7 linked regions of the Homo sapiens genome follow. The gene in region 1 interacts genetically with each later gene. Each region holds a gene or a part of one and is shown in the gene's direction. Other genes may lie near its edges. The genes, in order: NF1, FBXW11, ATG9A, EBNA1BP2, CDK10, RPRD1B and TOP3A.

Region 1 (3,500 bases):
AGCTCTAGACTAAGTTGCTTTCAAGTGATAATTGCCTTCATTTTAGGCTTGGGAAGATACACATGCAAAATGGGAACAAGCAACAAAGCTAATCCTTAACTATCCAAAAGCCAAAATGGAAGATGGCCAGGTAAGTCTGTAAAGTTGACTTTTGTCTGTTAACTGATCTGCTAAATATATGTACTTCACTTTGATAATCTTTCAAGAGTCGCTCAGTAAAGTAAACATATAGCTGTGTGAAGACTGATATTTAGTTGTGGTTTATCTAGACCTGTACTTTGTAATGTGGTAGCTACTAGCTATGTGTGACTATTTAACTTAAATTTTAACATAATTAAAATTAAATAAAATTTAGTTCCTCAATCATATAGTAACCACATCGCAAGTACCAGTAGCCACATATGACAATTACTTACTCTATTGGACAGCAGAGAGAGAAAATGTTCCTGTCATCACAGAAATACTGGGCAGCACTGCTAGAGACTGTTTGTTGCAGAGACCATTTCTTTACCTTTTCTTGCTCTTTCTCCCTTCATCAGGGTGTTTCACAGAATTTTCAGAAAAGGAGCAACAGAGGTAGAGATAAATTAACATGGAAACAATTCATTTTGCTATTTTGTTAGGTATTCTAATTAAGGAATGTCTTAGGCAGTAGATTGATCCCATAGAGTAAATGAAATTTTAAAATGTGGACAGTTCATTCAACTATTACTATTGACTATATTATCTGTTACTTTGGAAATTAATGATCAGTTAGTGTTTGTGTGTATTTGATTTGTAATGTTCATATTGCTCTCATTATTAGGTGATTTATAAAAACTGGTTGTTCCTCCATGGTGTTTTTGTCATGCTTAATTACAATAGGAAAAAGTTATATTTTTACGAAGCAAATGTGTGTACCTAATACCTTTATTTGGAGGGGACATGTAGCTTTAGAATGAAAGCTTTTGGGGGGATAACTGTTTTATATAATTACATACCATACAGTTCACCCATTTAAAGTGTCCAATTCAGTGACTGTTTTTAATGTATTCACAGAGTTGTGCAACCATCACCACAATCAAGTTTTAGAACAATTTCATCAATTGAGAAAAAAACCCCGTACCCTTTAGCTATCTCTGCCTCTAACCACCCCCCACCCACTTTCTTGCCTCTCTTCCCCCAACGTCTCTAGCCCTAGGCAACCATGAATCTACTTTCTGTCTTTGTAGATTTGCCTATTCCGGATATATTCTGTAAATGGAATTATAGAATATGTGGGCTTTTGTGATTAGCTTCTTTCACTTAGCATGATGTTTCCAAGGTTCATCCATGTGAAATCAAAACTTTTTAAAAGAAATTTGACACTCGGCTGATTATATTAGTGTATGATAAAAATAGATCAGTGGCTCTTTAAAAATGTATATGGTAATTTTATGGGTTGATTTTAATGTATATTTTACATTTTTTGTACTTTTGTCATGGAAGAAATGTTGGATAAAGCATAATTTGTCAAGTCTCAACTAATTAAGGTTTAATTCATGCTTTGCACAAAAATTTTGTGTTTAGGCTGCTGAAAGCCTTCACAAGACCATTGTTAAGAGGCGAATGTCCCATGTGAGTGGAGGAGGATCCATAGATTTGTCTGACACAGACTCCCTACAGGAATGGATCAACATGACTGGCTTCCTTTGTGCCCTTGGGGGAGTGTGCCTCCAGCAGAGAAGCAATTCTGGCCTGGCAACCTATAGCCCACCCATGGGTCCAGTCAGTGAACGTAAGGGTTCTATGATTTCAGTGATGTCTTCAGAGGGAAACGCAGATACACCTGTCAGCAAATTTATGGATCGGCTGTTGTCCTTAATGGTGTGTAACCATGAGAAAGTGGGACTTCAAATACGGACCAATGTTAAGGATCTGGTGGGTCTAGAATTGAGTCCTGCTCTGTATCCAATGCTATTTAACAAATTGAAGAATACCATCAGCAAGTTTTTTGACTCCCAAGGACAGGTAAAGTGTTCTCTTATTTTTCACCTTTCTCTATGAATAGAGTGACTTGTTTGAAATAAGCCTTTTTCTTTCAGATTATTTAAATTAGGTACTCACAGTTTTTAAAAATTTCCAAAAAATTGCAGAAAGAAGAGTCATCTCAATGTAGGGGTCAGCTTGCCTCTTAGGAACTCTGGTGTGTATGTGTGCCTAAGGGTATACGTGCCCTGTGTATGGGTACGAGTGTCTGCGTATATCTGTATGCTTATTTGGCTCTATGCCTGTGGGTGCACTTACTCTGTGTGTTTAGATCAGTCAGTTTCATCTCTCTAGGGGGTCTGTCTTCTGGGCATTGATGGCAAATCATTAATGTATTTGTTCTTTCTTTAGGTTTTATTGACTGATACCAATACTCAATTTGTAGAACAAACCATAGCTATAATGAAGAACTTGCTAGATAATCATACTGAAGGCAGCTCTGAACATCTAGGGCAAGCTAGCATTGAAACAATGATGTTAAATCTGGTCAGGTAAGCATTCTACTGAAATGTAGCAGAAACATTTTAAGAGATAAGAAAAACCTCTTACACACTGATACTGGTAGTAATTGATAAAATAACTGGCCATTCTTTACTGCACACAAACTAGGGTGTGACAGTAAGGTAGCCAGAAGTTGTGTACGTTCTTTTCTAAATAAATATCTTATTGTTTTCAAACTTACATTTAATTCGTTTTACTTGATGACTAAAGTATTTAGAATGCCTTCTCTTTTGTCTATATCTGATAATTTTTTTATTGTTTCTATGTCTATATAGGTATGTTCGTGTGCTTGGGAATATGGTCCATGCAATTCAAATAAAAACGAAACTGTGTCAATTAGTTGAAGTAATGATGGCAAGGAGAGATGACCTCTCATTTTGCCAAGAGATGAAATTTAGGTGAGTTCTCAAAAGAGCAATGTAGGGTCTTGTAAATCTTAATATGTCCAATGAAGTACAGAAAAAGAGTAGATATGCGGTTATTGGTAGAAAGGAGGACATGAAAAGAGAGCAATTTACATGTTTGTTTTTCTCTACATCTCTTCTCAAATTTCCCTAAGCTTTGTGCCTGTGACAATGCTCCCTTTTTCTAAAACTGTGCTATACTTGAGCTAAGAATTTGATTCTATTTCCAATCTGATACCATAACTAAGGGCCATGATGGAGGATAAATATCCATGTTGCTTGTTCCCTTCTGGCTTTTATGTCTGTGATAGCAGTATCTCTTTTATAAAGTCGTCATGTCACTTAGGTTATCTGGCAAATTATTTGCACTATAAGAAATCTTACGTGACTAAAGGTGTGTGTGTGGCTTCAAAAACATTGTTTGCTGTTTCTCTTTTCTCCACCATTCTATAGGAATAAGATGGTAGAATACCTGACAGACTGGGTTATGGGAACATCAAACCAAGCAGCAGATGATGATGTAAAATGTCTTACAAGGTAAAAAAAGAATGACCTTCAAGTATTAGTGGGTTTTACTGTGAGAGTTAT
Region 2 (4,339 bases), on another chromosome or scaffold:
AAACAATGAAATCATGCAGAGTCAATACTGTCTTGGAAAATCTGGGAGGTACTATTTCAATGACTACCAATTTGGCGTAATTAGATCTATGCTGTAACTACAGAGAGAACCCACCCAGTCCTATTTTTATGCCTGGTATCCTGACAGAAAGAGACTGGTGATTAGTTTATATTGACATTGAGCATTGGGATTTATGTTTGATCGGTTTAGTTTAGACTGACCAAATTGTGGTTTTTGAATTCTTATTCTTACCATCATCAAAGCTGATGGTTTTAACCTTAACAGAATAAGCAGTGAGAATTCATACAAGATTTTCTTCTGAGTTGTATTGTTCATTGAATTAGATGACAATGGGGGAAGAAACGTGTTGGTTAAGAATGTGCTCGTTACCCTTGGTTAGTTTCTGCTGATCGCAATTGCTTAAGAGGAAGTTTGTCTTTGTAGGCAAATGAGAGACAGACCAGGAAGACCTGACAATCCAGTAGGGTATCTCTTACCTGGTTCTTAGTGTTTTAATGAAACTAAAAGATGGAAGAGTTCTGTGATGTCAGCGGGAAGCGTTTTTAGGAAATTCCCTCTCAGGTTGAGTTAACAATGAAGAGCTTCACAAAATGGAAAGCTGTGAAGTATAAACACTGGGACATTAATAGGAAAAATAAAAAAAAAAGCTTTGGCTCTTTGGCTTGTGATAGAGAGGTGTGTAAATATAAGCATATTGAATGTAGGAAACCATTGTATAGTAAAAAGCCTCTGATCCACAGAAGAAAAAGAAAGACTGAGGTTCTACTATTGTGAAAAAGGAACTTGAGTAATTTTTAATGTTTATTTTTTTAGGAGTTAACTGGAGAACATTGAACCAGTTTTGGTAACTAACAATAAAATATATTTTGGCCCTCTGAAATGACTACATGATAGATTCAAAGAGAAAGGGGGCAGAGGGGCAGGAAGAACTCAGTCCTGACACTACTCACCTGGCATCTGTTAATCTTTGTATTACTAGCATAAGGCCTGCCAGCAATTAGGGATTGAAGAAATATATATATACAATTAGGGATTGAAGAAATATATATGTGTGTGTATATATATATATATTTTTTTTTTTTGAAGGGAAGGGAGAAAAATTAACTCACTAGTACAGGGGAAAAGCCTGAGGATTCAAGAGGTCCAGAAATGAGTCTGTTAGTCAAATTGCTGTGGTTGTGTTTTGCTATAACTTGTTTTGCATTTTGGATAGTCGTACCTTGAAAAGCATAGTATACTGTTTTAGCAGTTCGCTACTAGCCATAGTTCCCTAGCTACTTCTGTCAAAATTGGGTTTCCAGTTTATTCTTAGGCTTAGGAGTAATACCACTTAATGGGAAAAACTTGAGAACTCATTATTTGCTTGGGATTTTACTTTTGTGATCTCCTTAAAGTTGTGAGTCTTAAGGTATTTTCATCTGATTGTTATGGCGAGGTTAATCATAGACCGGTATTTCAGTCACTTTAATTGCCTTACCTACAATATGAACAATCAGAACATCTTTAAGAGTCATTGCCTGTGGACTGTCAACAAATCTTAGAATTTAAAAATTACTTGGGTTCAGCTGGATTTGAGATTCTTTGTCACAGTTACAATCTTTGCTGCTAAACACAAAGACTACTTGAGTACCATTATAGTATGTCTTGCCACAGTCTTTTTTTTTTTTTTTTTTTTGAGACGGAGTCTTGCTCTGTTAACCAGGCTGGAGTACAGTGGCACGATCTCAGCTCACTGCAGCCTCTGTCTCCCGGGTTCAAGTGATTCTCCTTCCTCAGCCTCCCGAGTAGCTGGGATTGTAGGCATGTGCCACCAGGCCCGGTTAATTTTTGTACTTTTAGTAGAGATGGGGTTTCACCATGTTGGTCAGGCTGGCCTCACACTCCTGACCTCAAGTGATCTGCCCGCCTCGGCCTCCCAAAATGTTGGGACTACAGGTGTGAGCCATCGAGCCCAGCCTATAATGTGTTTTGTTTTAGCATTAATATTGTGGGCTTTAGGCTGGGCATGGGGGCTCACACCTGTAATCCCAGCCCTTTGGGAGGCCAAGGTAGGCAGATCGCTTGAGCTTAGGAGTTCGAGGCCAGCCTGGGCAACATGGTGAAACCCTGTCTCTACTTAAAAAAAAAAAAAAAAAGACAAGAAAAAAATATCATGGGCTGTAGAATTGCATGGCTCTTTGTTAATTAAATGCTTTTTTAAGTGGCAAGATCTAGGGAATTACCCTTTCAGGATGGCCCAACTGATTCATGTAGGCTGAAATATTTACTCTTCTGTATTTTCATTGTTCTCCATTTTGATGTTAATTAATTTAGGACCTTTGAGAGTAAAGCTTGATTTCTTCTCCTCTCTCAGAAATCATGGGCTTTCTGACCCTTGAACTGTGGAGTCCATAGTGCTCCATGAAAAGGGCATGGGCTCTACTACCTAGTAGATGTGGGACTTTGGATAGGTTACTTCTTTCTGCTCATCTTTTTTTGAGAATTAAATATGGGTAATTAATGTAAAGGGCTTGGCCAGTTAGTAGCTTTTCAATAAGGTAGGTATTACTATAATTACTGCAGGAGCATTTTGGCTATAATGTAGCAATTGTGGAAGTAGCAAATTTATGTTCGAGTAAGTTCAGTCTTTTTGTTTTTATCTTTGTTGTTCTGCTGAATGCTTTTTCTCTTTCCCTTTTAGTTTGTTTAGAATTTGCAGTCTAATTTGATATGGTAGAAAAAGAATATTGATATAATATGGACAGGACTTAATATTTAATGGTGTCACCTAGTAAATTGTATATTAGCGTTCTTTATGATTTTTCCCAGTTTACGTGATCATTGGCCATTGTACGGGACTGGCCTTTACTGAGTCAGAAGTTCAGTCTTCAGTTATATGTTTTGAAGCACACTATATTTTAGCTAAGGGTAGAGGATTTGGGTAATATGTAGATATGATGTCTTATATGTAGCAAACCAAAACATTTTGTTAGGTACGTAAATAAATATCTTTATGGTAGATATTTGAGCCCTCTCGTATCATTCTTTTTGGCTGACAAACTATTTTTCTAATGGTGGAGGAGCTGTCTTAGAAAATGGATAAGGAAGTTCAGTGTAGCTGAATGGTCTAGGACAATTTATATGGATGATAGGGTAGGTATTTTTTAGCTGCTCTCATTTGGAAGTTGCATGCTGTTTATCATGAGTAAATATTAACATTAGGGATGTTCCATTATTTGTTACGAGTTTTGTATCCTTTCAACACAGAGGTGAGGAATGCTGCTGCAGGCATTTTATGCCAAATAGCTGACTCAGGGGTTATAACTTTTTTCCTGTGCCTCAGATCCACCATTCCATTGACCCTTCCTTCCATTTCTTGGAGGCTGTCCTTTGCCGCTGGTGCCATGGTGGGTGTATGGATTGCTTTCTGTCTTTCAACAGTTACCGAAGTGCATGTTTGGGATTTTGTTGAAGAAAGCTGGATACAGTAAACGGAAAGAATCTTGGAAGATGCTTGACTGCTGTCTTTTCTCAGACTAGTCTGAAAGGGAAAACCCCCATTCATTCTGGATTGGTGGATCTGAAGTACAAAATATTTTCCAGGTAAGCAATTACCCTGTATTGTTTTGTTTTGTGGAACTCAACTCGCTGAAAGAAATTTTGAAAAATATTTTCCCTTATTTATTTTGTCCATTAATAGGGAAAGGGAGAAATATTAGACGTTTGTGCGTAGTGTCATGTTTGGCCATGTTTGAGTGTGGATCAGTGAAGGTCTATGTGTCTGAATTCCTGGTAAAAACTTTGTTTTACTGTAAGAAGTGCAGTTATTATTATCTTTGAGACATCAGGTCGCCCAGGCTGGACTGCAGTGGCACAAACATGGCTTACTGCAGCCTTGACCTCTTGGCCTCACACGATCTTCCTGCCTTAGCCTCTCAGGTAGCTGGGACCACAGGCACATGTCACTATGCTCAGCTAATTTCTTTTTTGTAGAGACAGGGTCTCACCATGTTGCCCAGACTGGTCTTGAACTCCTGGGCTCGAATGATTTGCCTGCCTTGGCCTCCCAGAGTGTTGGGATTACAGACATGAGCCACCACGCCTAACTCAGTTATTTTTATTGTAAGCCCAAATAGTTTTTATTCATAGTCTAATAGGAAATACAGTAAACAGAGACATATGTTGTTTAGGGAATAGCTTGTAAAATATGGAAAACAAATGGTAACTTTGAGGCATTCTCACATGATTTATATAATAGTTAATACCTGGTCAAAATATTTTTTGCGGTTTCATGTAAAGTGGTGATATTTTATTCTGAGGTCTCTTGGCAGGTCGTCTT
Region 3 (4,339 bases), on another chromosome or scaffold:
TTAACAATTACACGTTTATAATCTGCACCAGAAGAATGGCTTCACATGTATGCTCATCGGGGAGATCTTTGAGCTCATGTAAGTATAAGAAGGGACAGATGATGTGGTGAAAGAATACATCTTAGTCTTTCCTCTCCTTGCACTCACACTTGGCCCAACCTGCCAGTACAACTCAGTCCTAGGCTAAAACTCCGTAAACCTTTGTAGTTCAGGGACTGGGTGTGGCACCAAAACTTACAGCTTCACCTTTCTTTTTTTTTGAGATGGAGTGAGTCTCACTCTGTCGCCCAGGCAGGAGTGCAGTGGTCTTGGCTCGGTGCAACCTCTGCCTCCCAGGTTCAAGTGATTCTCCTGCCTCAGCCTCCTTAGTAGCTGGGACTACAGGCATGTGCCACCATGCCCGGCTAATTTTTTTTGTATTTTTAGTAGAGATGGGATTTCACCAAGTTGGCCAGGCTGGTCTCGAACTCCTGACCTCGGGTTATCTGCCCGCCTCAACCTCCCGAAGTGCCGGGATTATAGGCATGAGCCACCACGCCCGGCCAAGCTTTCTTACAAGAAAAGCTTTCCAAGCCTTATCTCTTCCATGAAAAGAACCCAAGCCTTGGTTGGGCACGGCAGCTCACACCTGTAATCCCAGCACTTTAGGAGGCTCTAAAAATACAAAAATTAGCTGGGTGTGGTGGCACACGCCTGTAATCCCAGCTACTTGGGAGGCTGAGGCACAAGAATCGCTTCAACCTGGGAGGTGGAGGTTGCAGTGAGCCGAGATTGTGCCGCTGCACTCCAGCCTGGCTGACAGAGTGAGACTCTCTCAAAAAAAAAAAGAATGCAGGCCTTGACCTTGATCATCTCAACGCTCCAATGGAACGTACATTGTTCAGTCAGGAGGTCTCAGAGATGCCAGCCACAGAGAAAAGCCTCTGTTCTGCCTTGCCTGTTCCATGGCCTGCTCCTAGGCAGAGAGCCTCCTGGGAGAGAGAAGCCATATAGCATTGCCGAAGGGGAAGGGGTTAGGAAGCCCTCCCTCAATCAGAAAACTCCCCCAAGGGCTTTTAACTACAACCTCAAAAGGAAATCAGAGACTGGAGATCAGAGACCCACAGGATGAAACCTTCGAGAGTCCAGTAGTGGTGGCTGAGGTTACCATGAGGTGAGGAAAGTAGGCTGCAGCTGTGGCAGCTGAGGCTAAGAGCAAAGAGTGGGCCTGAGACAGTCCTGTGGGGCTGAGGAGCAGAGAGGGCCCACTGGGAGTTCTCCAGGCCCTTCCAGTTCCCAGTCTTGTTCTGCCACCTCCAGACTCTCCTCTTCCCACTGGGTTTCACTGGAGCCTCTCTGGCTCTCAGACTGCACCCCTTCTTCCCAACTCCCCAGGCAGTTCCTCTTTGTGGTTGCCTTCACTACCTTCCTGGTCAGCTGCGTGGACTATGACATCCTATTTGCCAACAAGATGGTGAACCACAGTCTTCACCCTACTGAACCCGTCAAGGTCACTCTGCCAGACGCCTTTTTGCCTGCTCAAGTCTGTAGTGCCAGGTAAGGGCTGCAAGTCAAGAGGACACCATAGCCTTGAGTTCTGCTAGCAGGTGGGTAATAGAGTGGAGTCTGAGGCAGCAACTCATACTCCAGAACTGACTCAGGCTTGGTCTAGCAAAAATACTTCAGGATAGCAGCGTCTCTGCCAAGACTCCTTCCTCGAGGGCCACCTCTCCTCCCCTTCTTTTTCCCCACCAGGATTCAGGAAAATGGCTCCCTTATCACCATCCTGGTCATTGCTGGTGTCTTCTGGATCCACCGGCTTATCAAGTTCATCTATAACATTTGCTGCTACTGGGAGATCCACTCCTTCTACCTGCACGCTCTGCGCATCCCTATGGTAAGACTGGGAAGTTGGGCAGTTAGCCCATAGTCTAAGACGTATTGGGAGGTGTGGGTGTATTCCTGGGCATCAGTTATCCTTATCTGTCATTGACAAATCAGGAACTGTCTCTTAAGCTCACAACCCCTGAATCTCACTTCTAATATAGGGCAAAGGGGTCGAGGCAACAACCCCACCTTCCGTACCTTGTCTCTTCCCCACCCCACCCCGCAGTCTGCCCTTCCGTATTGCACGTGGCAAGAAGTGCAGGCCCGGATCGTGCAGACGCAGAAGGAGCACCAGATCTGCATCCACAAACGTGAGCTGACAGAACTGGACATCTACCACCGCATCCTCCGTTTCCAGAACTACATGGTGGCACTGGTTAACAAATCCCTCCTGCCTCTGCGCTTCCGCCTGCCTGGCCTCGGGGAAGCTGTCTTCTTCACCCGTGGTCTCAAGTACAACTTTGAGCTGATCCTCTTCTGGGGACCTGGCTCTCTGTTTCTCAATGAATGGAGCCTCAAGGCCGAGTACAAACGTGGGGGGCAACGGCTAGAGCTGGCCCAGCGCCTCAGCAACCGCATCCTGTGGATTGGCATCGCTAACTTCCTGCTGTGCCCCCTCATCCTCATATGGCAAATCCTCTATGCCTTCTTCAGCTATGCTGAGGTGCTGAAGCGGGAGCCGGGGGCCCTGGGAGCACGCTGCTGGTCACTCTATGGCCGCTGCTACCTCCGCCACTTCAACGAGCTGGAGCACGAGCTGCAGTCCCGCCTCAACCGTGGCTACAAGCCCGCCTCCAAGTACATGAATTGCTTCTTGTCACCTCTTTTGACACTGCTGGCCAAGAATGGAGCCTTCTTCGCTGGCTCCATCCTGGCTGTGCTTATTGCCCTCACCATTTATGACGAAGATGTGTTGGCTGTGGAACATGTGCTGACCACCGTCACACTCCTGGGGGTCACCGTGACCGTGTGCAGGTGGGCCAGGGCCACAGGCGGGAGCAAGCCGGCTAGCATTCCTGGGAAAGGCATACATCTCACCATGATCCTGATCCCACTAGGTCCTTTATCCCGGACCAGCACATGGTGTTCTGCCCTGAGCAGCTGCTCCGCGTGATCCTCGCTCACATCCACTACATGCCTGACCACTGGCAGGGTAATGCCCACCGCTCGCAGACCCGGGACGAGTTTGCCCAGCTCTTCCAGTACAAGGCAGTGAGTGGAGTTGGAGTTAGGGCCTGCTAGAGACTGGCTGGTAGCTCGGTGGTGAGGGCTGGGCTCCCTCCTGCTCGCTTGTGACCTTGGTCCCGCCCTTTTAGGTGTTCATTTTGGAAGAGTTGCTGAGCCCCATTGTCACACCCCTCATCCTCATCTTCTGCCTGCGCCCACGGGCCCTGGAGATTATAGACTTCTTCCGAAACTTCACCGTGGAGGTCGTTGGTGTGGGAGATACCTGCTCCTTTGCTCAGATGGATGTTCGCCAGCATGGTCATCCCCAGGTACTGGGAGAGGAGGGAGCCAGGTGGCCTGGGATGATGCTGGAACATACAGTGTCTTTGGGAAAACCGCAAAAAGACACCTCTCCTGAGTCACACAAAGGCAGTCCTATACCAGGGGCACACTGCTTGGGAGCCTGGGCTGGATTTCAGCCCTAATTCGCACCCTTGGCCAAGCTCCCTTAAGAAAGGCACAACACGGCCAGGCGCGGTGGCTCACGTCTGTAATCCCAGCACTTTGGGAGGCCAAGGCGGGTGGATCACGAGGTCAGGAGATCGAGACCATCCTGGCTAACACGGTGAAACCCCTTCTCTACTAAAAATACAAAAAAATTAGCCAGGCGTGGTAGCGGGCGCCTGTAGTCCCAGCTACTCGGGAGGCTGAGGCAGGAGAATGGCGTGAACCTGGGAGGCGGAGCTTGCAGTGAGCCGAGATCACGCCACTGCAATCCAGCCTGGGCGACAGAGCGAGACTCCATCTCAAAAAAAAAAAAAAAAAAGGCACAACACAAGTAACTGGCTCAGCATGCAGTGCAGCCCCTCCTGGGTCTGGGGGGGCACCAGTGCCCTGGGAAAGATTGACAGTATACTGTGGTCTCCGTTCTCCAAGGGTAAGGCCTCCCCACTAACAGGAAAGGTGCAGGAAGGCTCCTGGAAGAGAACAGCCCTGCTTACTCTGCTCTTCCTTGTGCAGTGGCTATCTGCTGGGCAGACAGAGGCCTCAGTGTACCAGCAAGCTGAGGATGGAAAGACAGAGTTGTCACTCATGCACTTTGCCATCACCAACCCTGGCTGGCAGCCACCACGTGAGAGCACAGCCTTCCTAGGCTTCCTCAAGGAGCAGGTTCAGCGGGATGGAGCAGCTGCTAGCCTCGCCCAAGGGGGTCTGCTCCCTGAAAATGCCCTCTTTACGTCTATCCAGTCCTTACAATCTGAGTCTGAGGTGTGTTCCTGGTGACTGGGAGATGATGGGCAGAGTG
Region 4 (3,643 bases), on another chromosome or scaffold:
TGGTATTAATCATGGTGTTGCTATTAAGACAATGTAGACACTGGAGTAATGGTATGGAATGGCTGTAACGGTCCTTGTGTTCATATCACAGGTGCAAACGGAGGTTCTTCAGAAGAGGCAGCAGGAGAAAGCCCATATGATGAATGCTATTAAGAAATATCAGAAAGGTTGGTACATCTCTAATAGGGGAACGAGGGTAGCAGGTACTTTAGAGTTGATTTGAACACTTAGTGCTTTGGAGCCTTCTTGGTTGATGTGGACCTGTCGGATCAAAGTTTTGGGAATGGTGTTGGAGAGCAGGATGTGACTCTTAAAATCAGTGTAGCAAATAACAGCCTCATATGGTGGTTTAAACTTTTATTCTTAAAATACAATGGTGCTGATCAAAACTACTTCTTCACTTACAGGCTTCTCTGATAAACTGGATTTCCTTGAGGGAGATCAGAAACCTCTGGCACAGCGCAAGAAGGCAGGAGCCAAAGGCCAGCAGATGAGGAAGGGGTGAGAAGGGTTTTGGCATGGTTTCTTTGGTTCTGTGAGGTGCGATGGGGCCACAGGTCACGAGTATGGCAGACATAGCACCTCCACCGGCGCAGCCATAGAGTCCAGAGAGTGCAGCTGCTGCCTGGGGCCAGGACCCCTATGACTGTGTGATGGGCCCTTTTAGCCATGTCAGTCTTTGAAGAGTAAAAGAAGGCACTTTTTAAACTTCTTTTTTTTTTGGACAGTCTCATTCTGTCACTCAGGCTACAGTGCACTGGTACAGTCTTGGCTCACTGCAACCTCTGCCACCTGGGCTCAAGTAATTCTGTGCCTCAGCCTCCTGAGTAGCTGGAACTACAGGTGCCTGCCATCACACCCAGCTAATTTTTGTATTTGTAGTAGAGACAGGGTTTCACCATGTTGGCCAGGCTGGTTGTGAACTCCTGGCCTCAAGTGATTCACTCACCTCAGCCTCCCAAAGTGCTGGGATTATAGGTGTGAACCACTGCACCCATCCTAAGAAGGTACTTTTAAGTATGTGGCACCCTTTAAGTGAATGCTGAGTAAAGTTGATTCCCCATCACACAGTGCGATGGTTGAGAGTTCAGACCTAGGGTTCAGATCCCGACTCTACCACTCAGTAGGAGGGCAGTTTTGAACGAGTTACCATGCCTTTCTAAATGCTAATTGCCTCATCTGCTAAGTTGAGGAAATAGTGTCTGCCTCATAGTATGAAGACTGAAAGAGAGAATGTGGGCTCTCATTGTTTTTTCTAGTCTGCTTTTTTGCATACCTGGATACCAGGCCTAGGGGAAATGATAATTTCCATGTAAGATAGTAAGTGCTATGATAGAGGCATTTGGGGATTAGTACTGAGTCAGCTTTTATAAATACCTGACAGGGTCTGGGGTGGATTTCTGGAGGAGCGTTCGACTTGAGCATTGCTTGAAGCATGAGTAGGAATTAACCACGAGAATAGAAGAGAAGCTGGGTTTGGGAAGAAGTAAGAGCTTGAACGAGCAAAGCCATCGAGATGTGAAACCTCAGGGTTTTGTGAGGAACAGTAAGCCCTTGGTGTCACTGGGAATACAGTGCAAAGCAAGGAGGGGTGCAATGTGTTTGGGGGGACCTGGGCTGTGGGTTTGCCTTGTTGAGGAGCTTGGGCTTTGTCAGAAGGCAGTGGAGAGACTAGGTTGTAGGTTGTACTAACAGTAATGAGCAGGTTATATTCATGTTTTTAAAAAGATCACAGTGGATTTTGTATAAGTGACAGACTTGAGGGAAGCTGGGAAATTGACAAGGGTACTATTGCAAAAGTCGAGATAAGGATTGAAGAAACATTTAAGAGGTGAAATGAGCAGGACTCAGTAATTGAATTGGGTATAAAGAGTGAGAGAAGAACCAAGGCTGACTCCCACATGTTTAGCCTGTGTGTCTGGGTTGGTGGGAGCAGCGCCAGCCTCAAGTGAGGGCATATGTACAGGAAGCAGAGCCAGTCCAGGAGATGATGTGAATTTGGAGATGCTGAATTCAAGATTCCTATTGGATGACCAGTTTTACATTTGAATGTTATTCCATTTGAATGTTATTTGAATGCCTATAATTACATTTGAATGTTTACATTTGAACGTATTCATTACATTACATTTGAATGTTACAAATGTAACATATTACATTTGGATGTTAACTGCATGTATTTACCCTTGAGAGGAATAGACACAACTGAGGGTGATTTAATAAGATTTGGTTAAAATAGAAAGCTTTCTAAAGACAGCAGGAAGCCATGTAATATATGTAGAGCCTTCCCTGCTTCTTGCTTTATTTTCCTGCCCTGGTGGTCAAAACTGTAAATAGGTGAGCTAGATGAGTTTGTCTAGAGAGGCTGTAGCATAGGATTGTGGGGCCAAGGATGAGATTCTGGGTTACAGACGTGCCTAAGGGGCTTTGCTTATAGAAAGGAAACTGAGAGCATTGCTGGGCCATCAGGTTCATCAGGCTTTACAGTGCTGTAGTGATGTCTAGGACCATTCTTTTCCAGGCCCAGTGCTAAACGACGGTATAAAAACCAGAAGTTTGGTTTTGGTGGAAAGAAGAAAGGCTCAAAGTGGAACACTCGGGAGAGCTATGATGATGTATCTAGCTTCCGGGCCAAGACAGCTCATGGCAGAGGCCTCAAGAGGCCTGGCAAGAAAGGGTCAAATGTAAGTGAGCCCAGGTGCCCGGGTGAGGAGCAGGCTCAGCCTCCCCTCCCACTCCCAACCCTGCCCTCTCCCTTCAGTTCTGTTCGTCCTCACCCTGGGGCAGAAGGCAAGCTGCTATGTGACCAGATGTGGTATGTCTTTTTCTGTAGAAGAGACCTGGAAAACGAACAAGAGAGAAGATGAAGAACAGAACACACTAAATAGCATCTTTGAATACAAAGAACCAAGAAAAAGGAATGAAGACTCGCAATTTCACGACACACTTTGATCCCTTCTGTTGGTGTCATGTTGTAAACATTTCTTTCAATAAACTAAAGAAAAATTATTAAAGGAACACATACCTTTGGTTAAATAGTCTAGACTAAAAGATTGAGAAGTTACTTTCCATTGCTATCTATTGATAATTTAGACATTGAGTTCAAATTGCCTTCATTTTATGATAAATAATGATTTAACTGACACCTTCTCATTTCCTTTGTCTCATCCTTCTAAATAGTTATATTACGATCAATCCCTGTAAAGCTCAATGCCCATATTTTACAGGTGTGAGCCACCGTGATTTTCTTTGTGGTACAGCTTTTGGTTTTTCCTCCAGTTAACCTTCACCTTACATTCTTCTGCTTGCCTAATTTTCCTTCTATATTCTTAGTTCTTTCCAGATGCTTTGTCATTTTACCCACTTTATAATTTTTCTCCTACAACCTAGTTATGCCACACAACTGTCACCTTTTTTCTAGACCGTTTAAGTTGGCACCATTATTTCCAGAATCCCATGTTTTCCCATCTTAGCATATGCCTTCTTTTGCTGTGTACCATTTTTTGGTATCTTACTAAGAAAGGGAAGATGAGAGGTAAACTTTTTATCTCCTTGCATTTCTGAAATTGCCTTTAATTTGGGCTGATAGGAATTTCCTCCTTAGAATTTTAGAATTTCGCAGGCACTGTTTTTAAGTTTTATT
Region 5 (4,339 bases), on another chromosome or scaffold:
CATCTCTACTAAAAATACAAAAAAATTAGCCGGGCGTGGTGGCGGGCGCCTGTAGTCCCAGCTACTTGGGAGGCCGAGGCAGGAGAATGGCGTGAACCCGGGAGGCGGAGCTTGCAGTGAGCCGGGATTGCTCCACTGCACTCCAGCCTGGGCGACAGAGTGAGACTCTGTCTCAAAAAAAAAAAAAAAAGATACTAAAAAGCCCAAAGCTGAGGAAACGTGCAGGAAGTCTACGGGCATTGGTGCCGTGGGGGAGCTCTCAGCCCCTGTGGCCCTCTGGGAGCCACCTGCCACTGTTTTTCCATCACAGGGACCTGAAGGTTTCCAACTTGCTCATGACCGACAAGGGTTGTGTGAAGACAGGTGGGTGCAACTTGGGCCAGGCCCTGTCCCTAGATGGCACTTGGTGACACACACTCCCCTCTCTGCTGCAGCGGATTTCGGCCTGGCCCGGGCCTATGGTGTCCCAGTAAAGCCAATGACCCCCAAGGTGGTCACTCTCTGGTAAGTCCTTCTGAAGCATGGTGGCCCCTGGGGACCAGGCCTGTCTGGTGGAGGTCTCCTTGGGGATGTCAGGCCGAAGCTGCAACTGGCCTTGGGAATGTTAAGCTACAGGGTCTGTGCACACTCAGAAACGTTGGGTCTAGGACAGCCTCCAGGACACAGCAGGGCTGTGCCACAAAATGGTGAGAGACGGGCTCAGTGGCGTCAAGGGCCTGCCTAGATCAGACACACCTCGCCTTGAGAGCTGGAAACACCGTGGCCGTGAAACCATCTCTGGAGGGAAGGCTGCTTCACGGACTGAAGGACAGGCAGCTTGCATGCTTTCCCTGGTTCTTCCTCCTGGATACTTTTAACCAAACAGGGTCATGCTTAGCCAGGGCTGAATATCAGAGTTGGTCAGAATCAGGTCAGGACCCCAGTGTCGTGTACTCCCCATCTGAGAACGGGTTGGTAGTGGCTGGTGTGGCTGTGTGCCGAGGGTCCGTGGTCCCTGCGACTCTCAGGACACCGCTGCACGTGACAGCTCTCGCCCCCGGCAACCATTGCTGTGTGTGCCACCTGGATCTGCAGGGCCTGGGGCAGAGGGTGGTCCGAGTTGGGACAGGTTTCCAGGCCACCACAGGCTCTCGGGGAGGCTGTGTCCTGTGGAGGCCTGGGCTGGGGGAGAGGAGCCGGCTGTATTGAGGTGGGTGCTTCTGTGTGTAGGTACCGAGCCCCTGAACTGCTGTTGGGAACCACCACGCAGACCACCAGCATCGACATGTGGTGAGGAGATACGGTTACCGCTCCTGGGGCCTCAGGAAGGGCTGGGACAGGAGCCGGGTCACCTGGTTCCTGAGCTCAGCCTCAGGGGAGGGGCAGGAGTGCAGTGGGGTCTTTGCCAGCCTCCCACTCCCAGGGAGGTGGGCCTGAGCCTGGAAACCCAGGAGGAGGTGTGAGAACTTAGCTTGCTGTTCTCAGGCTGGGAGCACAGAGGTCTGGAGGAGGCACGCCTGCCCCTGCACTTGTCACCCCGGGAGGCCTGCGGGGCCCAGGAGGGGAGCCAGTGGTCCCTGCCTGTCCTTCACAGTGTCCCTGACCCAGCGTGCCTCACACTGGCAGGGTCAGCAAAGGTCTGGCTGCAGTCAGGTCCTCTGTTCCTCGCGCTGGCGGGGTCAGCAGACGTCTGGCCGCAGTGAGGTCCACTGTTCTCTGCAGGGCTGTGGGCTGCATACTGGCCGAGCTGCTGGCGCACAGGCCTCTTCTCCCCGGCACTTCCGAGATCCACCAGATCGACTTGATCGTGCAGCTGCTGGGCACGCCCAGTGAGAACATCTGGCCGGTGGGCGTCCTGGGCAGACCCGCAGCCCCCGCCCGTGCCCACGCCCTCTGCGCCCGCAGCCCCCGCCCGTGCCCACGCCCTCTGCGCCCGCAGCCCCCGCCCGTGCCCACGCCCTCTGCGCCTCAGCTCCTGCCTCCCATAGGGCTTTTCCAAGCTGCCACTGGTCGGCCAGTACAGCCTCCGGAAGCAGCCCTACAACAACCTGAAGCACAAGTTCCCATGGCTGTCGGAGGCCGGGCTGCGCCTGCTGCACTTCCTGTTCATGTACGACCCTAAGAAAAGGTGCTGATCTCTGCACGGGGGGCAGGGACCCTCACCACCCACACTGTCCAGACCGTTTCCCAGAGCCCAGCCTCACTGCGGTGGAGAGGCCCCTCCCCAGGCACAGCCGCTCGGAGTGGCCACCTGGCTTCCTTTGAGCATTTGAATCACAGGCTGCTCAGCTGGGTGGGAGGTGAGGAAGCCGCACTCACAAGTCGCACTAACGCAGGCTGCCTCCTCCAGGGCGACGGCCGGGGACTGCCTGGAGAGCTCCTATTTCAAGGAGAAGCCCCTACGTGAGTGTGCAGGGTTCCTGACTCGCTCTGTGGGGTATGGCTGGGAGCCCGTTTTGCCCGGGGTGGGTGGTGGAGAAGTGGCCTGCTGCCCTCACTGACGGCACACCCTTTCTGGGGTAAGAGGACAGGGGCATGTGGAGGCACAGACAGCCCAGGGCCAGGTCCAGAGGCAGAGCTGGACTCAGACCTGGGCCTGCTCCTCCTATCTGGGGCCCTGCCCCGCCCAGCACTGAACCCTTCTCCCTGCAGCCTGTGAGCCGGAGCTCATGCCGACCTTTCCCCACCACCGCAACAAGCGGGCCGCCCCAGCCACCTCCGAGGGCCAGAGCAAGCGCTGTAAACCCTGACGGTGGGCCTGGCACACGCCTGTATTCCCACACCAGGTCTTCCGATCAGTGGTGTCTGTGAAGGGTGCCGCGAGCCAGGCTGACCAGGCGCCCGGGATCCAGCTCATCCCCTTGGCTGGGAACATCCTCCACTGACTTCCTCCCACTGTCTGCCCTGAACCCACTGCTGCCCCCAGAAAAAGGCCGGGTGACACCGGGGGGCTCCCAGCCCGTGCACCCTGGAAGGGCAGGTCTGGCGGCTCCATCCGTGGCTGCAGGGGTCTCATGTGGTCCTCCTCGCTATGTTGGAAATGTGCAACCACTGCTTCTTGGGAGGAGTGGTGGGTGCAGTCCCCCCGCTGTCTTTGAGTTGTGGTGGACGCTGGCCTGGGATGAGAGGGCCCAGAAGACCTTCGTATCCCCTCTCAGTCGCCCGGGGCTGTCCCGTGCATGGGTTGGCTGTGGGGACCCCAGGTGGGCCTGGCAGGACTCCAGATGAGGACAAGAGGGACAAGGTATGGGGTGGGAGCCACAATTGAGGATACCCCGAGACTACCAGGAGAGCCCTGGGCTGGAGGCTGAGCTGCATCCCTGCTCCCCACATGGAGGACCCAACAGGAGGCCGTGGCTCTGATGCTGAGCGAAGCTATAGGCTCTTGTTGGATAAAAGCTTTTTTAACAGACATGGTTTCACCAGCGTTTAATGTGCTCTGATGTTGACCGTCCCTCTGAGTGTTCTGGGGAGGAGGGGGTGGGGCGGAGGGTCAGGAAAGCAGGCTCAGCTTCCAGGGTCAGGGAGTTGTGGGCCCAGAGGGGCTGTCACAGTGGATGCACCCTGCCCTCTCCCTCGCCAGACCCGAGGGTAGGGCAGAGGCACCTCCTCGCCAGCCTGTGGGCTGCACCCACAGGGAATGGAGGGGAGGGGCACCATTACCACTGGACCCACCAAGACCCCGCCGCCTGGGCGGGCTGTCCACAGGCCCTTCCGCCCAGCAGCAGTGACGCTCAGGGCCTTCCCAGCTGTCAGCCACTGCCCGTTCCTGCGCCTCTCGTGCACCTCCACATCTGGTTTGAGGTCAGGTCATTTCCTGTCTGTGGGCCCAGCTGCTGTGACACCCAAGGGGAGGGCCGGCGTCCCCGAAGCCAGGTCAGCCGTGCACCCGGCAGAGCCCCGCAGATTGGCTCCAGCAGAGCTTGGGGTGGGGGGAGCTCGGTGTCACCAACAGGCCCTTGAGGACACTCGTGTGGAGAATCCCTGGGACACGTGGAGGACCCCCAAGTCCTGAGCCCCGTACTCCGTACTGCAGGGAGCAGGCCAGGAGCCACGGGCCTTGGGGCACAGGGTCCTTCTCAGGGACAGGTTCAGGCACTGGCTGGAACAGGCTGGACCCCTCTACCCAGCACATGTGGGCATGCGTCTGGGTTCCGAGGGTGGGGAAATGTGGAAAGGCTCCTGCTGGCCGGCTTAGGCCTGCTGCCCTTGGAGCCTTCCATATACAGAGAGTCCCACCTCCAGCAAGGGTTGGCCTGGACTCTCCAACCCCCTGCTGTGCCCAGGACTCCCCCAGGGACAAGGCAACCAGAGGCCCAGACCCCTCCCCAGCAAAGAGAAGCACCACGGGAGCTGTCTC
Region 6 (4,339 bases), on another chromosome or scaffold:
TTTGTGTTCCATTCCGCTCACTTCTTCCCCTTCACCAAGGACATTCTTTGTTTCCCATCCCTGAGGAGGGTAGAGGTTCCTAATCTTTGGCATCACACCCAATCTGGAATCCTTCAGCAGTTCCTCTTGCAATATTCACATTAAGAAGGCATCGAAAAGCCAGATGGCTGTTTGCCAGAGATACTGTGTTGGGGATTCTTAAATCCTAGTTCCCCAGGAGAATGCGAGCTCTCACCTCTGACAGCCTGTATCCATAGGGAATGTCATGGAACTGTCCCACGGTACTGCCGGAGTCTCTGGTGCCCTTTGTTTCAAAGCACCAACCTACTCTTTTGATTCATTCAGGTCTTTTAAAAATGAGTTATACATATTTAAAATTCGAATCTCACCACCACCCACACATAATTAATTATATCAGTTCTTTGTAAATACAGATCCTGCTTTTTCTTCTCATTTCTTAATTATGAGCCTTTGTTCATCACTTCTTCCCAAAAATACCCTTTCTTAATGTTTTTCCACCCCCAAAGCATGAGTTACAACCCATTAATTGGATATGAAATCAGTCTGGTAGCTAATGACCAACAGTTTTTGAAAAATGGAATAAAGCCATCCTGGCTAACACAGTGAAACCTCGTCTCTACTAAAAATACAAAAAAATTAGACGGGCGTGGTGGCGGGGGCCTGTACTCCCAGCTACTCGGGAGGCTGAGGCAGGAGAATGGCATGAACCTGGGAGGCGGAGCTTGCAGTGAGCCGAGATCATGCCACTGCACTCCAGCCTGGGTCACAGAGCAAGACACCATCTCAAAAAAAAAAAAAAGAGATAAAATAGAAGATAGAGCACACATAGTAAGAATGGGTATTTTATGAAACGCTGCTTTCATTTTTCTGTGTATTTACATAAGTGTATTTCTGCTGTGGGTCATGTTCAGAAACATTTAAAAACCTCTTTCTTATCAGACTTTACATTTTGTCAAATGTAGGAAGAAGTTCATCCCCACGTCCAAGGCTTACATAGTTTAAGAGATAGAGTGCTATAGATCATTTTAGAGATCTGGCTTCGAGCCCCAGCATCTCAGCTCACTGCATATAGAAACCTGTCATGTAGTTTTTTTTCTGGCGGGGAGGGGGTCTTAGTTCCCACACCCAATAAATAAGTGCATGCTATTTTTTATTCCAGTGGAAAGTAAAAAGACTACTTAATGAAATATAGTGGTCCCTCCATATCCATGGGGGTTTGGTTCCAAGACCTTCTGAGGATACCAAAATCCAAGGTTGCTCAAGGCCCTTAAATGGTGTCGGATTTGTCTATAACCAACAAACATCTTCCCATATACTTTAAATACTCTCTAGATTACTTATCATAGCTAATGCAATGTAAATGCTATGTAAATAGTTGTTATTCTGTATTTTTAAAATTGGGTTTTTAATTGTTATTTTTATTGGTTTGTGGGGTTTTTTGGTCTGAGTATTTTCCATTCATGGTTGGTTGAATCCACAGATACAGAACCCACAGATATAGGGGCCAACCGTAATATAAATGAAAGCACTTGCAATTCTCAGAGACAAGGAACGATTTTTTCACAGGTGATCTTCAATATCTCTTTATGCTTGTTTTGTCAGGAGAGCTTTTGCAGGAACAGGCATTTAGAAAGCCTTTGCCAGATTCCCCCCATGTACAGCTTCCTCACTTCAGGTAATTGAGTAGTGTCCTGTCTTGTTGACAGAGTGAATGCCTTTGGATTTCTTGCTTAATCAACTCATTGTTTGTCCACAGGTGCTGGCTTATTCTCAGACTCTGTATATTGGGAGAGAAACCGTTAACCTCCCCCAGAAATGTTTGTAGTCATACCTGTGTGATTTGTATATTTTCTCTATTTTTTGGTCTCATTTGTACTTAGACAAAGAGGCAGCTGAACGTCTTTCAAAAACAGTAGATGAAGCATGTCTGTTACTAGCAGAATATAACGGGCGCCTGGCAGCAGAACTGGAGGACCGTCGCCAGCTGGCTCGGATGTTGGTGGAGTATACCCAGAATCAGAAAGATGTTTTGTCGGAGAAGGAGAAAAAACTAGAGGTGAGTGCATTGAAGGCAGACCCAGACTGCCCACGTTTCCCTTCCTGTAGCCCACATTAGGAGGTTTTTATTATGCTTTAATTAACAACATTTTTATCGTTTAAAAATTCATGATGTGAATTCTGAACATCCATCAGATACTGTAATTATTTGAGCCCAGTTAAAAATTGAAGTCATGTTCTTATATGTCCAGGACAGAACAAACTGGATTGTAGGAAACAAACAGTGAACTCTTAATCACAGCCTTAGGATCTTAATATTGCTTTCGTTTGAACTCATGTTTTTAAAAAAATTACGAATTGAGGTACAAAAAGGATAGCAAATCAGTGAAAACCAAAGAATATGTTTGGTAGTATTTGGGAAGTGCTGAAAAATGTTTCTTTCAAGTCATTTGGAGGTTTATTTCTTTTTTTTTTTGAGACGCAGTCTCGCTCCGTCGCCCAGGCTGGAGTGCAGCGGTGCGATCTCGGCTCACTGCAAGCTCTGCCTCCCAGGTTCACGCCATTCTCCTGCCTCAGCCTCCCAAGTAGCTGGAACTACAGGCGTCCACCACCACGCCTGGCTAATTTTTTGTATTTTTAGTAGGGACGGGGTTTCACCATGTTAGCCAGGATAGTCTTGATCTCCTGACCTCATGATCTGCCCACCTCAGCCTCCCAAAGTGCTGGGATTACAGGTGTGAGCCACCGCGCCCAGCCGTTTGGAGGTTTATTTCTGACTTTATCCATGCTGCGGCCAAGAAGTTGTCTGCCTCCAAGATCTATCTGTAATTAGCTCTTAAATGTCACAGTAGTATTTATATAGCACAGTTCTCAAACTGTAAAAGACCTCATTTCTACCCTGGGTTGAGGACATTAGTCTGAGTGACCTTGGGGAGGGAGTTCAGAAACATTTCCTCACCATACACTTGTTTGGCTTCGTAATTAAGTACATGGTAGTTTACCCTCAGTACTTGCTCCCGTGGGATAACAGAGCCAGCAGTGTGGATTTTTGGGAACTTTGCTGCCCCGGGCTGCTGCACTTCCTTTTCAGGAATGTCTGCTCTTCTTTTTTTAAGAGATATGGAAAAGAGTTGCAGCCAGTGGTTTTGTGAAGGAGGACACTTCTGAGTTAGAGAGCCAGTCATGTTGTATTTCAAGAAATACTTCTTAAATCCCACTCAGAGTAGACAAGGGACAGGGAGAGCCATGTCACCTCCATGCTCAGGAAACGTGCTCTGGCACAGAAGGAGGGAACATTGAGCTATCTCTGAGGCTGAGATCATTGTATTTGCCTTTCAGCATGGTCATCTGACTTGAGGGGAAATGAGTGGCAGGCACTTTTTACCGTATCCTTACCTGCAGTGATTCTGGGAACTGTGTTGCGTAGTGGTAGCAGGAACTTCACATTCGTAGCCTGCTTGAATGTGGAAGATGGGAAAGGGCTGTAAAAATCCTACAGCTTAGATTTAGACATCGGCACTGACCAGAGATCCTAAAGGGAGTTTTACAGGCAGTACCAGACGGTCATTTATCTGAAATGCTCATCTTTCACTGAGGAAGCATTTTCAGCACTGTGCCCCGGGACTAATAAGAGAGTGTAATTAATGATTCTGGTTGTAAGTCACCATGCCATCTGTTGAACTGCCCCTTGGCGACACATTAAGGGCTTTCTCTGATCTGTCAGACATTGATTATCATGAGCAGCTGTTGTTGGGTAGAACGTGGCAAGCAACCATAGAGGACAGAGTCTTTGAGGAGATCGGGTTGGTAGAGCTGGTTAACTCTTTGTTCTGTTTTCCCTCCCCACAGTTGCACTCTGCTCTGTATATTGTTGGGGAATCATTCTGGTTTTTGTAGAACTAGTGGTTTGCTGGACGCCACGAGAGGGCATTAAGGTGGAGAAACAGATTAGAGCTTTGGATGCGTTCTGTAACTTTCCAGTCTGCGTTGCTCTGCGCGGTTCATTCAGTGGAATGGGGCTGGCATTCCATTGCTGAAGAAGCGGAACAGAAAGGCCCCACCACTGGAACCAACGTACAGAGTCTGAACTGAAGGTTCTTATCTCAAACCATGTCTCCGAGGCACATGAGCAGAACCATTTATTGTAAAAAATAGAGCCGATTTGCTGCATTAAAGAAAGCAAATGACTAGATACAGTATAAGGTTTTTTTCTGAGATGGAGTCTCGCTCTGTCACTCAGGTTGGAGTGCAGTGACGTGATCTCAGCTCACTGCAGCCTCCACCTCCCAGGCTCAACCAATCCCCCGTCTCAGCCTCCTGA
Region 7 (3,873 bases), about 13 Mb from region 1:
AAATTTAAAAATTTAAAAAAATAAAAAGAATCCAACCCCGGCAGGGCGTGGAGGCTCACACCTGTAATCCAGCACTTAGGGAGGCCAAGGCTGGAGGATTGCTTGAGATCAGGAGTTCAAGACCAGCCTGGGCAACATAGTTAGACCTTGTCTCTATTTTTAAAAATATAACAAGCACAGTTGTACACGTCTTTAGTTCAGCTGCTCAGGAGGCTGAAGTGGGAGGATCCTTTGAACCCAAGAGTTTGAGGCTGCAGCAAGCCATGATCACACCACTGCACTCCAGCCTGGGTGACAGAGTAAGACCCTGTCTCAAACTTTTTTTAAAATGAAAGAATCCAACCTTTTTTTACTCTGACCTGCGAGAGTGCAGAGGGTCTGGGGAACATTTGCAGAAGCAACAGGTACCAGCCAGTGCTGGAAGGAGCTCACCCTGGGAGGTCTCGTCAGCCTCTGTCCTTCATGGCTGTCCCTTGTGTCCCATGTGGAGAGCCCTTCCTCCCTTTCCACATGGTAAGCACTGAGCCCAATTTCTTCTCACCCCACAGATGGTCCCTCAGAGCAGAGATGTCTAATGAAAGGTTCAGATTCAGATCACTAACTTTCCATCTTCCACTTTTTCCAGTGGTGGCCATGTTCCCCCGTTTGCCTTCACAAAAACCTTGTGAATAATACAAGCCATATGGACTCTGATTTACAGTTTAGAAGATGAGCAGAGGTGGGTGTGAGTTGCCCAGTCATGTTGCTAGTTGTTGAAGAAACTAGGATTGTTCTCAGGTCTTGGGCTCCTGGCCCATAGACCAGTGGCTCTGTGTTCTGATGGGGTATTGGGGAGGATTTTTACAAATGCAGGTTCCTGAGATTGTTCCTGGAACATCTCCGAGTGGGTGTGGGTTGTGGCCCTGCGTGTGTGATTTTGCCTATCCCAGCTCCGGGGTACCACCAACCACTTTTTGTCTCTGTGGGTTTACCTACTCTGGATATTTTGTTTAAATGGAATCATACCAGGCTGGGCACAGTGGCTCACGCCTGTAATCCTAGCACTTTGGGAGGCCAAGGTGGGCAGATCACCTGAGGTCAGGAGTTCGAGACCAGCCTGACCAATATGATGAAACCCCGTCTCTAAAAAAATACAAAAATTAGCCGGGCGTGGTGTCAGGCACCTGTAATCCCAGCTACTCAGGAAGCAGAGGTTGCAGTGAGCTGAGATCGGGCCATTGCACTCCAGCCTGGGCAAAAAGAGTGAAACTCTGTCTCAAGAAAAAAAAAAAAATGAAATCCTACCATACATGACATCCTGTGTCTGGTTTCTTTGACTTGGCTGATGTTTGTCAGGCTCATCCACATTGTAGCATGTCAGTCCTCGATGTTTATGATAAGCTGATAGCCCACTGTATGAATATACCACACGATTATCCATTTGTCAGTTGATGGACATTGGGTTGTTTCCACTTTTTGGCTATTGTGAATAGCACTGTTGTGAACATTGGTGTATGAGTGTCTGATGACTTGTTTTCAGTTATTTTGGGCATATGCCGAGGAATGGAATTGTAGTTTTATACCATAACTCCATGTTTTGACTTTTTGAGGAACCTACAAATTTTCCACAGTGGATGCACCACTTTACACCCACCAGCAGCACACCAGGGTTACTGCTTCTCCATATCCTTGTGAACACTTGTTCCTTTCCTTTTCTTGTATTATAGCCATCCTAGTGTTTTGTCATCCTAGTGGGTATGAAGTGGCGTGTCATTGTGGTTTTGTTTTGCATTTTCCTAGTCATTAATGACATTGACCATCTTTCCACAGGCTTACTGGCCATTGGTATACATTCTTTGGAGAATGTCGATTTAAGTTCTTCACCCATTTTTTATTTTTTATTTTTTATTTTTTTTTGAGATGGAGTTTCGCTCTTGTGCCCAGGCTGGAGTGCAGTGGTGCGATCTTGGCTCACTGCAACCTCTGCCTCCTGGGTTCAAGCAGTTCTCCTGCCTCAGCCTCCCAAGTAGCTGGAATTACAGGCATCTGCCTCCACACCCAGCTAATTTGTTTAGTATTTTTAGTAAAGACGGGGTTTCACCATGTTGGCCAGGCTGGTCTCAAACTCGTGACCTCAGGTGATCTACCAGCCTCGGCCTCCCAAAGTGCTAGGATTAACAGGCAGGAGCCATCACACCTGGTCTCTTCCCCCATTTTTAAATTGTGTTGTCTGTCTTTGTTGTTGAGTTGTAGGAGTTCTTAATAGTTTCTGGATATCAGATGCCTTTGTGGTTTTCACATCTCTGCAGGCAACTGTGTGTCTCAAAAGCAAACTGCAGGATTGGGCTGCACCATGGACTGGGCCAGGCATCTGAGATCAGACAGACCCAGGCTCAGCTCCCACTTCCTGGCCTCTTCTGCCACCCTGGGTGTGCAGCCTCATCCTTGGAGCCCCAGTTGCCTCATCCGTAATGGGGTGTCCTTGTTCATATTGAGGCTCTCTAGTGAAGGCTTACGGTCAGGCACGACTGCAAATTAAAGCTTCACAAATCAAACCTGTTGGAATTTCTAAGTCTCTCTCGATGGCCCACTCAGGTTAGCAGCATGCAGCTCATCCTACCCCGTCAACGTTGACTGGAAGGGTTTTTAGTCCCTGTGTTGAGCCACATCTGCAGCTTGTGCAATGCAAAACCAAGGAAAAGAAAATGGACCCCCCCCGCCCCCCCCTTGATGGATCTAGCTGAGACTAGGCACTGGCCAGGCTGTCACCTACAGTGGTTTCAACCTCCTGCTGCCAGCAAGACAGCATCTCCTGTCCTTTTTGTGCAGGAACCATAGCTCTGTTGGGTTAAGTGTTTTCCTCTACCAAGCAGCTAACCTGGCCTTGAAACCTAATCTCTGATGCCATGTCCCCCCAAGCCCCATCAGAGTTTTGTAAAAAGCCCCTCCCTGCTCTCCACACCAATGCTGAGAGCCCATGGGGTAACTGGAGGCTTCCCTGCCATCTTGGCAAAGAAGCCTGGCTGACGTCCTGCACATGCTTCCCCAGGTGATTGCTTGCACTTAACAGCAGAGGAAACGAGACCACCCCACACAACTTGTAGCAGTTGAGGAGTCTCTGCCTGATCCCACCCCGGATACTTAGAGCATCCAGAATTAAAAATAAGCCTTGTCACCAACATCCGGCTCCCCCACTCCCCAGAGCCAGGCTCAATGTGCCCAACAGCGCTGGGGCCCGCACCTGGAGGCACTGGCTTTTGAGACACTGGGCAGAGACCCCACTGCCCTTTGGGATGAATTCACCACCTGCCTCTTATAGAATCCGGCCGAAGACCTGGGATGTTCACATTCAGCTGGATCTCCAGGTTTCTTGGACTGGAACACAGGTGGCCCCAGCTCAATATGCTCACCAGGGTGTTGCCACTCACCTGTTGACCGTCCCTACCAGGGACAGATCTGTGCACCCCATCCCCACCTTAGACCACCAGCTCACACACAGGTGGTGTTGGTGCAGTGGTTAATGTTAGGTGTCAACTTCACTAGATTAAGGGATGCCGAGATGGCTGGTATTTTTTCTGGGTGTCTGTAAGGGTGTTGCCAGAGGAGAGTGACATGACTCGGTGGACTGAGAAAGGAAGACCTACCCTCAATGTGGGTGGGTACCATCCAATCAGCTGCCAGCACGGCCAGAACAACAGGTGGAAGAAGGGGGATGAGCACCTTGCTGAGTCTTCTCCAGCCCTCTCCCTCTTCCGTGCCAGATGCTTGCTTCCTCTTCTCTGCTGTTGGACATCAGACTCCAGGTTCTTCGGCATTTGGACTCTGGGACTTGCACCAGCAGCTTCCTGGAGCCTTCTGCCACAGACTGAAGGCTGCACTGTGGGCTTTCTGGTT

The links.
Region 2: changes in NF1 (region 1) and FBXW11 together harm fitness more than expected from each alone (negative genetic interaction), as found in Homo sapiens cells (one large-scale study listed by BioGRID).
Region 3: changes in NF1 (region 1) and ATG9A together harm fitness more than expected from each alone (negative genetic interaction), as found in Homo sapiens cells (one large-scale study listed by BioGRID).
Region 4: changes in NF1 (region 1) and EBNA1BP2 together harm fitness more than expected from each alone (negative genetic interaction), as found in Homo sapiens cells (one large-scale study listed by BioGRID).
Region 5: changes in NF1 (region 1) and CDK10 together harm fitness more than expected from each alone (negative genetic interaction), as found in Homo sapiens cells (one large-scale study listed by BioGRID).
Region 6: changes in NF1 (region 1) and RPRD1B together harm fitness more than expected from each alone (negative genetic interaction), as found in Homo sapiens cells (one large-scale study listed by BioGRID).
Region 7: changes in NF1 (region 1) and TOP3A are lethal when combined (synthetic lethality), as found in Homo sapiens cells (one large-scale study listed by BioGRID).

Annotation. Positions count from the first base shown.
Region 1 is NC_000017.11:31,227,477-31,230,976, forward strand, and holds part of NF1 (neurofibromin), read left to right. Parts: intron 1-46; coding exon 47-130; intron 131-1,548; coding exon 1,549-1,989; intron 1,990-2,358; coding exon 2,359-2,498; intron 2,499-2,783; coding exon 2,784-2,906; intron 2,907-3,365; coding exon 3,366-3,449; intron 3,450-3,500. UniProt on the Homo sapiens protein: Stimulates the GTPase activity of Ras. NF1 shows greater affinity for Ras GAP, but lower specific activity. May be a regulator of Ras activity.
Region 2 is NC_000005.10:171,996,154-172,000,492, reverse strand, and holds part of FBXW11 (F-box/WD repeat-containing protein 11), read left to right. Parts: intron 1-3,441; exon of another isoform or gene 3,442-3,603; intron 3,604-4,339.
Region 3 is NC_000002.12:219,222,608-219,226,946, reverse strand, and holds part of ATG9A (autophagy-related protein 9A), read left to right. Parts: intron 1-13; coding exon 14-78; intron 79-1,374; coding exon 1,375-1,536; intron 1,537-1,734; coding exon 1,735-1,876; intron 1,877-2,092; coding exon 2,093-2,841; intron 2,842-2,924; coding exon 2,925-3,078; intron 3,079-3,182; coding exon 3,183-3,362; intron 3,363-4,053; coding exon 4,054-4,302; intron 4,303-4,339. UniProt on the Homo sapiens protein: Phospholipid scramblase involved in autophagy by mediating autophagosomal membrane expansion. Cycles between the preautophagosomal structure/phagophore assembly site (PAS) and the cytoplasmic vesicle pool and supplies membrane for the growing autophagosome.
Region 4 is NC_000001.11:43,163,684-43,167,326, reverse strand, and holds the end of EBNA1BP2 (probable rRNA-processing protein EBP2), read left to right. Parts: intron 1-91; coding exon 92-167; intron 168-407; coding exon 408-501; intron 502-2,521; coding exon 2,522-2,684; intron 2,685-2,833; coding exon 2,834-2,884; 3' UTR 2,885-3,143; downstream 3,144-3,643. UniProt on the Homo sapiens protein: Required for the processing of the 27S pre-rRNA.
Region 5 is NC_000016.10:89,692,964-89,697,302, forward strand, and holds the end of CDK10 (cyclin-dependent kinase 10), read left to right. Parts: intron 1-310; coding exon 311-363; intron 364-434; coding exon 435-504; intron 505-1,209; coding exon 1,210-1,269; intron 1,270-1,464; coding exon of another isoform or gene 1,465-1,582; exon of another isoform or gene 1,583-1,599; intron 1,600-1,605; coding exon of another isoform or gene 1,606-1,701; coding exon 1,702-1,825; intron 1,826-1,967; coding exon 1,968-2,107; intron 2,108-2,329; coding exon 2,330-2,382; intron 2,383-2,631; coding exon 2,632-2,729; 3' UTR 2,730-2,765; coding exon of another isoform or gene 2,766-2,812; 3' UTR 2,813-3,391; downstream 3,392-4,339. UniProt on the Homo sapiens protein: Cyclin-dependent kinase that phosphorylates the transcription factor ETS2 (in vitro) and positively controls its proteasomal degradation (in cells).
Region 6 is NC_000020.11:38,064,180-38,068,518, forward strand, and holds part of RPRD1B (regulation of nuclear pre-mRNA domain-containing protein 1B), read left to right. Parts: intron 1-1,901; coding exon 1,902-2,077; intron 2,078-4,339. UniProt on the Homo sapiens protein: Interacts with phosphorylated C-terminal heptapeptide repeat domain (CTD) of the largest RNA polymerase II subunit POLR2A, and participates in dephosphorylation of the CTD by RPAP2. Transcriptional regulator which enhances expression of CCND1.
Region 7 is NC_000017.11:18,270,089-18,273,961, reverse strand, and holds the end of TOP3A (DNA topoisomerase 3-alpha), read left to right. Parts: 3' UTR 1-2,534; downstream 2,535-3,873. UniProt on the Homo sapiens protein: Releases the supercoiling and torsional tension of DNA introduced during the DNA replication and transcription by transiently cleaving and rejoining one strand of the DNA duplex.